Homo sapiens: one gene and its partner. The protein of the gene in region 2 purifies or fractionates together with the protein of the main gene of each other region. This does not show direct contact. Each region holds a gene or a part of one and is shown on either strand. Other genes may lie near its edges.

Evidence for each region. Proteins that work in one complex are often made in the same cells at the same time.
Region 1: the proteins of SIRT4 (region 2) and SNX3 purify together in Homo sapiens (affinity purification with mass spectrometry; 2 studies listed by BioGRID and IntAct, with this or other methods). This does not show direct contact.

Annotation. Positions count from the first base shown.
Region 1 is NC_000006.12:108,215,880-108,223,454, forward strand, and holds part of SNX3 (sorting nexin-3), read right to left. Parts: intron 7,167-7,575; coding exon 7,071-7,166; intron 1-7,070. UniProt on the Homo sapiens protein: Phosphoinositide-binding protein required for multivesicular body formation. Specifically binds phosphatidylinositol 3-phosphate (PtdIns(P3)).
Region 2 is NC_000012.12:120,304,752-120,312,326, reverse strand, and holds part of SIRT4 (NAD-dependent protein lipoamidase sirtuin-4, mitochondrial), read right to left. Parts: intron 1-7,575. UniProt on the Homo sapiens protein: Acts as a NAD-dependent protein lipoamidase, biotinylase, deacetylase and ADP-ribosyl transferase. Catalyzes more efficiently removal of lipoyl- and biotinyl- than acetyl-lysine modifications.

The DNA of each region.
Region 1 (7,575 bases), on a different chromosome or scaffold from region 2:
TAAAATGTCGCTGCACTCCAGCCTAGGTGACAGCGAGACCCCGTCTTAAAAAAAAAATAAATTTTTAAAAATGTTATTCTGGAGCTCAAAATACTTGTTTTGATTAAATAGCACCTAGCTATTTCACAGGTTAGTTTGGTTTCTCTACCCTAGCACTACTGAGAATCAGATAAGTTTTGTACTGGGGGGCTTTCTTGTGCATTCTTTTCTTTCTTGAGATGGGGTCTTGCTCTGTCACCCAGGCTGGAGTTCCGTGGTGCGATCATGGCTCGCTGCAGCCTCCCCCAGACTCAGATGATCCTCCTGCATCAGCCTCCCAAATAGCCGGGACACTACAGGTACATAGCGTGCTACCACGCCTGGCTAATTTTTCTATTTTTTGTGGAGATGGTGTTTCACTGTGTTGGCCAGGCTGGCATTCTTTTCTTTAGCAGCATCCCTAGCCTCTGCCCACTAGACAACATAGCACCCCCAGCTGAGACAATAAAAAATGTCTCTAGACAGTGTCAAACGTCTCCTGGGGGATAAAACTGCCTTTGGTGGAAAACCATCAATCTATCATACTAATGTCTTCAAATCAAGACCCCTGTCTTAGGCTTCTTGTGGTTATTTTAAGAAAAACTGGGCATACAACAGAAGCTCAAATATCTGTTAAATGACCAACCACTTAGCTGGATCCTTACTTTAAACGCAAACAGAGAAATGTGTAAGCAAACAATCAGAACAAGGAGAAATATATATAGTAAACTGATACATATTTTTCTTTTCACCAATAATACAAATTACACATATTCAAAAAAATTAAAACTTTAAACCCTTGATATAGTTTCTACAACGAGTTGTTTATCCTCAAACAAAATTCAATAGGGTAAAAAAGGGAAAGAGCAACTCGACTTCATATAGATTAACAAAAAACAAAATAAAAACAAAAAAACCAAATGTCCAAATAAACTTTATAATCCCTTCCTAGATTTACTCTCCTCAGATGACCAATGATGAAGATATCTATGGATTTGTCTCCGTAAATTTATGCTAGCATTCTCAGATCTCACCCCCATGTTAACATCTGTTTAGTTGAGAGTTAAAATCTGCAGGGACCTTCTATAACTGAGAAACAAAGGAATGCTAACCATTACGTTCCAGTAGAATGGCTATCTGGTGGGCAGGGAAAAATATCTGTATCTACACAATTATTATTTAAAAAAAGAATTCTGGAACCACTGTGTTAAATAAATGACCACCATTAATTCAGGGTAGAATTTAGCATGAAACTTAAGAAAAGGATAGCTCAAGGATGTCAGTTAAAGAAAGAAGGAAAATGATAAAAAATGTAACAATATATATATAATTAAATATATATAAATTTCATATATAATGGGAATTTAAGAAAAGGATAGCTATGCATTATCCTCTGTAGAGATACACTCTTCCTAACATATTCAAACTAGTCATTCAAATGGATGGGGAGGTGGTAGGCAACAGGATTAATGATCTATAAAAATCATAAATGGCTCATCCAGCTAAGATTCTCTTCTACATCAAATTATTTTTGCTGAAGCAGTCTGAAAACACCTAACTGGAATTCTAACACCAGGTTGGGTGCGGTAGCTCACATATGTAATCCCAGCACTTCAGGAGGCCAAGGTGGGTGGATCACCTGAGGTCAGAAGTTCAAGACCAGCCTGGCCAACATGGTGAAACCCTGTGTCTACTAAAAATACAAAAAATTAGCCGGGCATGGTGGTGCATGCTTGTAACCCCTTTACTCAGGAGGCTGAGGAGAATTGCTTGAGCCTGGGAGGCAGAGATTGCAGTAAGCCGGGACTGCACCACGGTACTCCAGCCTGGGCGAGAGCTAGACACCGTCTCAAAAAAAAAAAAAAAAAATTCTAATACTAATTAAAAAGTCATGAATGCAAAGATATGTGCGTGCATGTGGGGTGAGAAATAGGAGAATATCTGGTGAGCACAATATATTGAAAGCTAAAGCAAACTAGAATAAAAGCTAAAAGATCTGACCATAATACATGTCAGCTAATTTCTAGCTTAGTTTAACAGATCTTAGTTAAAAGTACTAATATACCACAAAATAACTTGATTACATTGTTCTTTGCAATACTGTAATACGAGTAAAACTTTCACATGGATTTAACTCTCAATATATTTAACTGGTCTAATGTTAAATGTGAAGTATTGTGCTTCAAAGGACAACATCAAGAAAGTGAAAAACAACCCAGAGACTGGGAGATATGTGCAAATTATGTATCTGATAGGGAACTCTAAGAGTCTTATATATTCTCGACATAACTCTATAATAAAAAGATGAACCCATTGAAAAAGGCAAAAGCTCTCAATAAAGATGTCTCCAAAGAAGATACATAAATGACCAGTAAGTATATGAAAAGAAAATCAACATTAGTGGCCATTAGAGAAATAAAAATCAAAACCACAATGCAATACCCCTTCACAAACAGTAGGATAGCTATAATAAAGAAGACAGGCAATTGGTAAGGATGTGGAGAAAAGTAGAACCTCACATTGCTGGTAAGAATGTAAAATTACACAGCTGCTTTGGAAAAACGGTCTGCCAATTCCTCAAAAGGTTAAAAAGAGTTATGACCCAGCAATGTACTGGTAGGTATATACTGAAAAGAAATGAAAACACATGCAGACAGAAACCTATGCACAAATGTTCACAGCAGCACTACCAATAACAGCCAAAAAGTAGAACAAAATGTCCACCAAATAAGTGTATAAATAAGATGTGGTATAAGCATACAATAGGATATTATTTAGGAATAAAAAGAAATGAAGTAATTGATGCATGTTAGAAAAGCATGAACTGTGAAAACATGTTAAGTGAAAGAAGCCAGACACAAAAGATCACATATTGTGGGCTTCCATTTACATATGCCCAGAATGGGCAAATCCACAGAGAAAGGAGACTAGCAGGTGGTTGCCATAGGCTGAGTGAGGAAGGGTTGGGGAGAAATCAGTGGTGTCTACTAATGGGGACAGGGTTTCTTTTATTGGGTGATAAAAATGCTCTAAAATTGACTAGTGCTCTAAAATAGTGATGGTTGCACAACTCTGTGAACATATTAAAAACCAGTGAATTATACACTTTAAATGGGTGAATTGCATGGTATGTGAATTATATCTCAATAAAGCTGTTACTAAAAACAAAAGCGGTCGGGCGGGGTGGCTCACGCCTGTAATCCCAGCACTTCGGGAGGCCAAGGCGGGCGGATCACAAGGCCAGGAGATCGAGACCGTCTTGCTAACACGGTGAAACCCCGTCTCTACTAAAAATTTTTAAAAAATGAATAAATAAATTTACAAAAAAAAGCAAAATATACACTCAGCAAACGTTTATTAAACATTTCCAGTGTGCCACATGGTATGTCAAGCAAAGCCCAAAGCCTATGTATCAAGACACTTCTCAGCTAGGTGTGGTGGCTCATGCCTGTAATCCCAGCACTTTGGGAGGCCAAGGCAGGAGGATTACTTGAGGCCAGGAATTCAAGACCAGCCTGGGCAACATAGTGAAGCCTCATCCTTACAAAAAATTTTTTAAAATTAGCTGGACATGGTGGCTCATGCCTGTAGTCCCAGCTACTTGGGAGGCTGAGGCAGGAAAATCACTTGAGACCAGGAGTTGGAGGATATTATAGTATGCTATGATCACGCCACCGCATTTCAGCCTGGGCAACAGAGCAAGGCTCTGTCAATCAATCAATCAATCAATCTCCCAACCATCTGTAATTTGTAATATAGTGAGATATAAATCTTTATTTCCTAATAGACAAATATTTCAACTCCATTTGCTGAATTCCTTTCCCACTGAATGACAATGCTATTTTTGTTATGAACTAAATTCCCTATAAATACATGGGTCAAACTCTAAACTCTATTATATTCCACTAATCTATTTGCCCAACCTAAAGCAATATACACTGCATAACAGTGTTTCCCATCAGAGATGGACCACTTAAGATAATAACTGTGGTGCCTTAAGATTATAATGGAGGTGAAAAATTCCTATTGCCTAGAGATGTCTTGGTGATCCTGACTCTGTGCAGGCCTAGGCTACTATGTATATTTGTGACTTAATTTTTAAGAAAAAGTTAAAAAAATTTAAATAGAGAAAAGCTTATAGAATAAGAATATAAAGAACATATTTTTGTACATTTGTTCAATGTGTCTGTGTTTTAAGCTAAGTGTTATTACAAGAGTCAAAAAGTTAAAGTAAAAAGTTTAAAAAGTAAGCTAAGGTTAATTTATTATTGAAGAAAAATATTTTATAAATTATAAATTTCAATGTACAGTGTTTATAAAGCCTGCAGTAATAAACAGTAATGTCCTAGGTCTTCTCATTCACTCGCCACATACTAACTGACTCACCCAGAACAACTTTCAATCCTGCAAGCTCCATTTATGGTAAGTGCCCTATACAGGTGTACTATTTAAAAAATCTTCCATGCTTTAAAAAAAAAAAAGTCTTCCACGCTGTATTTTTTACCATATCTTTTATATGTTTAGATGCACAAATGCTTCCCACTATGTTACAACTGCCTGTAGTATTAAGTACAGTAACATGTTGGATAGGCTTGTAGTCTAGGAGTAATAGGCTGTACCATATAGCCTAGGTGTGTAGTAGGCTACACCACCTGGGTTTGTGTGAGTATACTCATATGATGTTTGCACAAACAATGAAATCACCTAAGGATGCATTTCTTAGAATGTATTCTCATCATTAAGTGCCATATGACTACACCACATTGTTTGAATTACTATAGCCTTAAGATATGTTTTGGGTCAGGCACAGTGGCTCACACCTGTAATCCCAGCACTTTGGGAGGCCGAGGAGGGCGGATCACCTGAGGTCAGGAGTTCGAGACCAGCCTGGCCAACATGATGAAACCCCATCTCTACTAAAAATATAAAAAAAATTAGCCGAGTGTGGTGGTGGGTGCCTGTAATCCCAGCTACTCGGGAGGCTGAGGCAGGAGAATTGCTTGAACCCCGGAGATGGAGGTTGCAGTGAGCCGACATGATGCCACTGCACTCCAGAGTGAGGCTCAGTCTCAAAAAAAAAAAAGATGTTTTGATGTCTGGTAGAACAAATAACCTGCTGCCCACTATATACTGAAAATATTTTTTGGTTATTCTTGAGCTTTTTCTGATTCTAAAGCTCATAAATAAATCTGCAACTTTATAAACAGCCCTACTGAAATTTCTACTACAATCTTATGAATTTATAAATAAGTTAGAAGATACTGCTCTACTTCATGCAGGTCTCTGCTAATGTCACCTAGAGTGAGGCCTTCCCTTGTGCTCTATATGAGAGTGGCTCCCCTGGCACTTCCTACTTCCCTTAGTTTAGCTTTGTTTTTTTTTTTAGAGCTTCTCATCATCTGACATCTATATATTTTACTATATTTTTCCTGCCTTCTCTTCAACAACCCCCTCCCCCGCAATTTACCTAATAGGATATAAGCACCATAAAAGAGGGGACCTTAATTTGTTCATAGCTCTACCTGTAACTCCTAGAACACAAAGGACGAGCTAAAATGTTTATAAAATAAAAAAATCTTCAACAGTAAACATTCCAAACGAGGAATACAGTATTACAAGGAATACAGTATTACACTTTTTTTTTTTTTTTTTTTTTTTTTTTTTTTGAGACAGGGCCTGGCTCTGGTGCCCATGCTGGAGTGCAGGGGCAAGACTACAGCTCACTGCAACCTCTGCCTCCTGGACTCAAAGTGATCCTCTTGCCTCAGCCTCCTGAGTGCTGGGACTACAGGTGCATGTCACCATGCCTGGCTAATTTTTGTATTTTTTGTAGCGATGGGGTTTCGCATGTTGCCCACGCTGGTCTCGAACTCCTTGGCTTAAGTGATCCACCCACGTTGGCCTCCTGAAGTGCTGGGATTACAGGCGTAAGCCACTGCACCTGGCCCCTCTTTATTTAGGTCTGGTCTTTTGGTAAAGTTTGAGAGCTTTCTTAACACAGATTTTGTATTTCTAGTTTTATTCATATTTAAAAATTTTGGAAGAGATGGGGCCTCACTATGTTCCCCAGGCTGGTCTTGAACTGCTGGGCTCAAGAGATCCTCCTGACTCGGCCTACCAAAGTACCGAGATTATAGGCATGAGCCACCATGCCCGGCCTTCTTTACATTTTTGTTGGAATGCTATGATCTGCATATTTTGTGCTCATATGCAGCCACTTTTATCTTAGGCTAGAAACAGAAAAAAAAAGAAAACCCTTATTAAACTTGAGAAATGAGTACAGACTAGCCTTCATCTAGTTCAGGACTCCTACCATACCCACACCTTTTTACCTACTTTCTAGTCACAAAATAACTTTTCATCATTCTGAGCACACCACGTCCTTCCATGACTCCTTGCCTCTGATGTCATTCTGAGGCAGGGCTGAAATGAGAGACACCAGAGTGAGACCTTGCTTTAATTTATTTTGATGCCAAAGCTACCAAATTCTATTCTAAGAGAAGATCAGGCATGTAACAGTGTTTTTAAATTGCCGGCAGCAACCCATTAGTGGATCATGGCCATCATTTAAAAACGCTAATCTGAAGAATATCAGCACATATCACACAGAGTGAGGTCATTACTGCTTTATGAAACTTCTGTTACATGAACATATATGTGATGAAAAAAACTTATATGTCACTAAAACAAAATTGGAAATACACTGACATTTATAAAATGTATTGAGGAAGAGAAACTTGGCTTAAGTGTGTGGAGAGGGGAAGATGGAATAGGACGATGAGGGAAAGGAAGGAAGTAATAGCAACAAGGTTCTAAGAAGTGTTATTGAAGTGTGAGTCAGCAAAGACCTCAACTGGGCCAAAGCAGACAAGAGAAAGAGTTCTAAGGAAAATTTACACAGACTCTACCTCTATAAAATGACACTGAACTATTTGAAAAAAAGAAATCATATTTGCTTTTACCCATTTTATTCAATATCATTTTCCTGAGAAATATTAAACATTAAAACTTGGAATGTTTTGCTTTAAAGTTGCATCATAAATCATTCTTACCTTGCTCTCTCTTTCTAATTCACTTCGCAGCCATTCAAAGTCACTGTATCTTCTTCTAACAGTAGATTCTTTCAGCTTGAAAATAGGAAGATTTGTCTGAAACAAAAAAAGTTAGTCCTAAATTGAAGCACATTAAGGAAACTTCAAAAAAATGGGGGGACGGGTATGGCAAAACAAAAGAAATCATGACTTTCTTTTTCTTTTTTTGAGACAGAATCTCCCTTTGTTGCCTAGGCTGGAGTGCAATGGCACGATCTCGGCTCACTGCAAACTCCACCTCCCAGGTTCAAATGATTTTTCCGCCTCAGCCTCCCAAGTAGCTGGGATTACAGGCACCCACCATCATGCCCAGCTAATTTTTGTATTTTTGTAGAGATGGGGTTTTACCATGTTGCCCAGGCTGGTCTTGAACTCCTGACCTCAGGTGATCCGCCCGCCTCGGCCTCCCAAAGTGCTGGGATTACAGGCATGAGCCACGGCACCCGGCCGAAATCATGATGTTTTT
Region 2 (7,575 bases):
CCATTTTAGCCATACTTTCTATTTTATTTTTTTTATTTTTGGAGACAGGGTCTGGCTGTTGCCCAGGCTGGAATGCAGTGGCACGATCTCAGCTCACTGCAGCCTCAACCTCCTGGGCTCAGGTTATCCTCCCACCTCATCCTCCTGAGTGGCAGGGACTGCACTACAAACACGCGCCATCTCGCCCAGCTAATTTTTGTAGTTTTGGTAGAGACGGTGTTTCACTGTGTCGCCCAGGCTGGTCTCAAACTCCTGGCCTCAAGTGATCCTCCCTCCTTGGCCTCCCAAAGTGCTGGGATTACAGGTGTGAGCCACTGCGCCCAGCCCATCAATTTCCTTCCTATACACTCCTTCCTAACCTTCTGCTATAGCTCACTTTTATCCTTAACATGACTGCAAATGCCTTGCCTGCTGATTTCCTTAATGCCCAAACCTGCGTTTTTCCCTCTATACTTTCCCTTGCTCATCTGCTGAATTTGCCACTGTCTATTACCATTCCTTCTAAAATGCTTCTCCTTCTTGGTTTCCAGGACACAGTGTCTCCTGGTTCTCTTCTCACCTCTTTTTTTTTTTTTTTTTTTTTTTTTTTTTGAGAGCAAGTTTCACTCTCATTGCCCAGGTTGGAGTGCAATGGCATGATCTTGGCTCACCGCAACCTCCACCTCCTGGTCTCAAGCGATTCTCCTGCCTCAGCCTCCTGAGTAGCCGGGATTACAGGCAGGCTCTACCACACCCGACTAATTTTTTTTGTATTTTTAGTAGAGACGGGGTTTCTCCATGTTGGTAAGGCTGGTCTCAAACTCCCGACCTCAGGTGATCCGCCTGCCTTGGCCTCCCAAAGTGCTGGGATTACAGGTGTGAGCCACTGCACCTGGCCCCCCTTCTCACCTCTCCAATCACCAGAGCTTGAGCCAGTGAGGGAGAGCACTTTGTGTCTGTTTTTATTTTTTTATTTTATTTTTTATTTTTTTGAGACGGAGTTTCACTCTTGTTGCCCAGGCTGGAGTGCAATGGCGCGATCTTGGCTCACCGCAACCTCTGCCTCCCAGGTTCAAGCAATTCTCCTGCCTCAGCCTCCCGAGTAGCTGGGATTACAGGCATGCACCACCACGCCCGGCTAATTTTGTATTTTTAGTAGAGACGGGGTTTCTCCATGTTGAGGCTGGTCTCGAACTCTTGACCTCAGGTGGTCTGCCCGCCTTGGCCTCCCAAAATGCTGGGATTACAGGCATGAGCCACTGCGCCCGGCCTATTTTTTTTTTTTTTTTTTTTTTTTTTAAGAGACAGGGTCAGGCTGGGCGTGGTGGCTCACGCCTGTAATCCCAACACTTTGGGAGGCCGAGGCGGGCGGATCACGAGGTCAGGAGATCGAGACCATCCTGGCTAACACGGTGAAACCCCATCTCTACTAAAAATACAAAAAATTAGCCGGCCGTGGTGGCGGGCGCCTGTAGTCCCAGCTACTCGGGAGGCTGAGGCAGGAGAATGGCGTGAACCCGGGAGGCGGAGCTTGCAGTGAGCCGAGATAGCACCACTGCACTCCAGCCTGGGCAACGAGCGAGACTCCGTCTCAAAAAAAAAAAAGAGACAGGGTCTTGGCCAGGCGTGGTGGCTCTTACCTGGAGTGCAGTGGCATGATCATAGCTCACTGCAGCCTCGAACTCCTAGGCTCAAGCAATCCTCCTGCCTTAGTCTTCCAAAGTGCTGGGACTACAGGTGTGAGCCACCACAACCAGCCTCATTTTTCTCCTTTTAGTTCTAGTCAGCCATCAGATTATGTTGATTTTCTTCTCTTAAAAGAACCCCTGTGGCCAGGCATGGTGGCTCACACCTTGTAATCCCAGCACTTTGGGAGCGTAAAGCAAGAGAATCGCTTGAGCTCAGGAGTTCCAGACCAGTCTGGGTAGACAGCAAGACGCTCTCTCTACAAAAAAAATTTTTTTGGCTTGTCTTTGTTTTTTGAGACGGGGTCTTGCTCTGTCGCCCAGGCTGGAGTGCAATGGCGCGATCTCGGCTCACTGCAACCTCCGCCTCCTGGGCTTAAGCGATTCTCCTGCCTCAGCCTCCCGAGCAGCTGGGATTACAGGCGCCTGCCACCACGCCCAGCTAATTTTTGTGATCTGCCCACCTCGGCCTCCCAAAGTGCTGAGACTACAGACGTGAGCCACCACGCCTAGCCAAAAAAAATTTTTTAATTAGCTGGAGTTCTAATTACCCAGGAGTTCTAGGTTACAGGGAGTTATGATGGCACCATTGCACTCTAGCCTGGGTGTCAGAACCAGACCCTGTCTAAAAAAGAAAAAAAGGCCAGGCCGGGCACGGTGACTCACACCTGTAATCCCAGCAATTTGGGAGGCCAAGATGGGTGGATCAGTTGAGGTCAGGAGTTTGAGACCCGCCTGGCCAACATGGTGATACCCTGTCTCTACAAAAATACAAAAAAATTAGCCGGGTGTGGTGGTGCACACCTGTAATTCCAGCTACTCAGGAGGTTGAGACAGGAGAATTGCTTGAACCCAGGATGTAGAGGTTACAGTGAGCCAAGATCATGCCATTGTACTCCAGCCTAGGTGACAGAGCAAGACTTCATCTCAAAAAAAAAAAAAAAAAAAGAAAGCGGGCACAGTGGCTCATGCCTGTAATCCCAGCACTTTGGGAGGCCAAGGCAGGCAGATCACCTGAGGTCAGGAGTTTGAGACCAGCCTGGCCCAACACGGTGAAACCCAGTCTCTACCAAAAATACAAAAATTAGCCGGGCATGGTGGTGCATGCCTGTAATCCCAGCTACTCAGGAGGCTGAGGCAGGAGAATCGGTTGAACCCGGGAGGTGGAGGTTGCAGTGAGCCAAGATCTCACCACTGCTCTCCAGCCTAGGCGACAGAGTGAGACTCTGTCTCAAAAAAAAAAAAAAAAGAAAAGAAAAAAAGGCCCCTGTGAAATGTCAAGAAGTCCTGGATTGTTTTAAAATGCTTAAGAAGAGACAGAATGGATAAAGTAGACATGACAAAATCTTGATAAAACCTTGGAATCTGGGTGATGGTATATGAGAATTCATTATACAATTCTCTTTACTTTTGTGAAGTTTGAAATTTTCATTATTAAAAGAACAGATTTTCTTCATGAAAAAAATTGTGAGTTTTTTTTGAGACAGAGTTTCACTCTTGTCGCCCAGGCTGGAGGGCAATGGCACAACAGTCTTGGCTCACCGCAACCTCCGCCTCCCAGGTTCAAGCGATTCTCCTGCCTCAGCCTCCCGAGTAGCTGGGATTACAGGCATGTGCCACCATGCCCGGCTAATTTTTTGTTGTTCTTGTACTTTTAGTAGTGACAGGGTTTCTCCATGTTGGTCAGGCTGGTCTTGACTCCCGACCTCAGGTTATCCACCCGCTTCGGCATCCCAAAGTGCTGAGATGACAGGCATGAGCCACCACGCCCGGCGGAAAAAATTGTTTTAATGAATCCATAAGCATCATTAACTCAAATTCCCTGGATACCACCTTAGTCTAGGTCTTTCAGGCTGACCTCCCTGACCTGCTCTTTTTAATCCTGTTTAGCCTTCCTCAAATGCTATTTTTATCATGTTGCTTGCTTGCTCAGAAACCACTAATAAACCCCTTTGGTGTCTCACAGCAGACCCAACTGCACTGCCTGATTTTCAAATGTAACCATGATTTGGGCCTAACTTTCCCAGACAATCTGGTTTCTGCAAGTCCCAGGTCCAAACCTCTACAGAGGCCAGGCCAGACTCCTCTGGGATCTACAACTTCCCTTCATTTGGAAAGCCCTGTTTCCCGCTCTTGCCTAGACAAACCTGAGCCAATCTCAAGCCCCCTGTACCCATAAAAGCTTTCTTGGGGCAGGCGCTGTGGCTCACGCCTGTAATCCCAGCGCTTTGGGAGGCCGAGGCAGGCGGATCACGAGGTCAGGAGTGAGTTCGAGACCAGCCTGGCCAACATGATGAAACCCTACCTCTACTACAAATACAAAAAATTAGCTGGGGGTGGTGGCAGGCACCTGTAATCCCAACTACTTGGGAGGCTGAGGCAGGAGAATCACTTGAACCCAGGAGGCGGAGGTTGCAGTGAGCCGAGACCGTGCCACTGCACTCCAGCCTGGGCAACAAGAACAAGACTGTGTTTCAAAAAAAAAAAAAAAAAAAAAGCTTTCTTGGGCCAGGCATGGTGGCTCACACCTGTAATCCCAACACTTTGGAAGATCAAGGCAGGAGGAGGGCTTGAGCTTAGGAGTTCGAGACCAGACTAGGCAACACAGCAAGATCCTGTCTCTATTTAAAAAAAAAAATTTTTTTTTTAAAAAGCTTTCTCAACTGATTATTCCAATCTTTACTAAATCTGTTTATTTGAACATGCACAGCATATAAATCAAGAACCACACAATTTCACAATCATGCGTTGTCATTTATCATTAATTATGTGCTTTTCTTTGTTTGTTTGCTTGGTTGTTTTTTGAGAAGGAGTTTCGTTCTTGTTGCCCAGGCTGGAGTGCAATGGTGCGATTTCAGCTCATTACAACCTCTGCCTCCCGGGTTCAAATGATTCTCCTGTCTCAGCCTCCTGAGTAGCTGGGATTATAGGCATGCACCACCATGCCTGGCTAATTTTGTATTTTTAGTAGAGACAGGGTTTCACTGTGTTGGTCAGGCTGGTCTTGAACTCCTGACCTCAGGTGATCCCCTGCCTCGGCCTCCCAAAGTGCTCGGATTACAGGCGTGAGCCACCGTGCCCGGCCAATTATGTTATTTTTGTGTCTTCCCAAATATTACAAAGTTCTTGCATATAAAGTGGGCCATGTTTTATACTTTGGTTTTTGTTTGTTGTTTGAGACAATCTCCCTCTGTCGCCCAGGCTGGAGTGCAATGGCACGATCTTGGCTCACTGCAACCTCTGCCACCCATGTTCATGCAATTCTCCTGCCTCAGCCTCCCGAGTAGCTGGGACTATAGGCGCCCGCCACCACGCCTGGCCAATCTTTTATTTTTAGTAGAGACTGGGTTTCGACATATTGGCCAGGCTGGTCTCAAACTCCTGAGCTCAAGTGATCCGCCCCCTCAGCCTCTCAAAATGCTGGGATTATAGGTGTGAGCCACTGAGCCCAGCCTATACTTTGGTTCTGACCACTAAGAAGCACAGTAGTTAGTGTTATAATGTACTACATAGTGTAACGTATGTACACCATACATTCTAGGCACCCAGTAAATATTTCAGCATTGGCAGACTGACTTCAGCCCTCAGAGGAGCCTCTCTAGGGCTTAAAGAAATAAGTCTCCAATTAGCTACAATTATTGCCAGACCCATAAGCATGATACCCTCCCATGTATCTGTTCCCTCATTATTGATTGAGTTCTGACTACTGCCCGGCTACGTTATGGTCTATGTATCTAGCCATCCTAGGCATTGGAAACCCAGCAGTTTATAGCACATGCTATTGGTGTTCAGCTCATATTTTCCTCAGAACATGCTAAAGGCCACGTTCGAACAGTTTCCTTTCTTTTTGTTTTTTTATTGAGATAGAGTCTCACTCTGTTGTCCAGGCTGGAGTGCAGTGGCACAATCTTGGCTCACTGCAACCTCTGCCTCCCAGGTTCAGGCGACTCTCGTGCCTCAGCCTCCCAAATAGCTGAGACTACAGGCGTGCGCCACTATGCCCAGGTAATTTTTTGTATTTTTAGTAGAGATGGGGTTTCACCGTGTGGGCCAGGATGGTCTCGAACTCCTGACCTCAAGTGATCTGCCTGCCTCTGCCTCCCAAAGTGCTGGGATTACAAGCATGAGCCACCGCACCCGTCCCAGTTTCCTTTCTCTGTTTTTTTGTTTGTTTTTTTTTTTGACGGAGTTTTGTTCTTGTTGCCCAGGCTGCAGGCTGGAGTACAATGGCACAATCTCGGCTCACCGCAACCTCCGCCTCTTGGGTTCAAGCTATTCTCCTGTCTAAGCCTCCCGAGTCGCTAGGATTACAGGCATGCACCACCACGCCCAGCTAATTTTGTATTTTTAGTAGAGACAGGGTTTCTCCATGTTGGTCAGGCTGGTCTCGAACTCCTGACCTCAGGTGATCCGCCCAACTCAGCCTCCCAAAGTGCTGGGATTACAGGCGCGAGCCACCGTGCCCAGCCAATTTCCTTTCTTAAAAAAATTTTTTGTAGAGACGGAGTCTGGCTGTGTTACCCAGGCAGGTCTTGATCTCCTGGCCTCAAGTAATCCTCCTGCTTCAGCCTCCTGAGTTGCTGGGATGACAGATATGAACCACAGCACCCTGGTGGACACAATTTTCTTTCTTTCTTTTTTTTTTTTTTTTGAGACGGAGTCTCGCTCTGTCACCCAGGCTGGAGTGCAGTGGCGCGATCTCGGCTCACCACAAGCTCCACCTCCCAGGTTCACGCCATTCTCCTGCCTCAGCCTCCCGAGTAGCTGGGACTACAGGCGTCCGCCACCGCGCCCAGCTAATTTTTTGTATTTTTAGTAGAGACGGGGTTTCACCATGTTAGCCAGGATGGTCTCGATCAACTGACCTCGTGATCCGCCTGCCTCAGCCTCCCAAAGTGTTGGGATTACAGGCGTGAGCCGCCGCGCCCAGCCTACACAATTTTCTTACAAGCAGTTTCCTGTGTCTCTCTTGCCTCAGATGTTCTCTGCCCACGGAAGCCTCCTTGGGAGGAGCAGAGTCAAAATGTTAGGGAATTAATTCCCCTAGAGTGATCCTGGACCCATGAGGGATGAGAGATGGTGAATAAATACCCTAGCTTCAAGGCCAAGCACAGTGGCTCACACTAGTCATCCCAGCACTTTGAGATGCCAAGGCAGGAGGATCACATGAGCCCAGGAGTTCGAGACCAGCCTGGGCAACATAGTAAGACTTCGTCTCTACAAAAAATAAAAATTAAATTAAAAATTAGCTGGGCACGGTGGCGTTTGCCTGTAGTCCCAGCTACTTAGGAGGCTGGGGTGAAAGGATCACTTGAGCCCAAGAGATTGAGGCTGAAGTGAGCTATAATCACACCACCACATCCCAGTCTGTGTGACAGAGTGAAAGCCTGTCATACACACACACACACACACACACACACGTGCACACACAAACACAAAAGAAAATAAAAGAAAATCACCCTAGCTTGCTCAACTTTCTTTTTTTTTTTTCTTTTTGAGACGGAGTTTTGCTCTGTTGCCCAGGCTGGGGTGTGGTGGCATGATCTCAGCTCATGATCTCAGCTCACTGCAACCTCTACCTCCCAGGTTCAAGCGATTCTCCTGCCTCAGCCTCCTGAGTAGCTGGAATTACAGGTGCGTGCCACCACTTCCAACAGATTTTTGTATTTTTAGTAGAGACGGGGTTTCACCATGTTGACCAGATTGGTCTTGAACTCCTGACCTCAGGTAATCTGCCTGCCTTGGCCTCCCAAAGTGCTGGGATTACAGGCGTGAGCCACCACACCCGGCCTCAACTTTCTTTAAAAAAAAAAAAAAAAAAAAAAAATATATATATATATATATATATATATATATATAAAATTTACTTTACTTATATAGAGACAGAGTCTCACTGTGTTTGCCAGGTTGG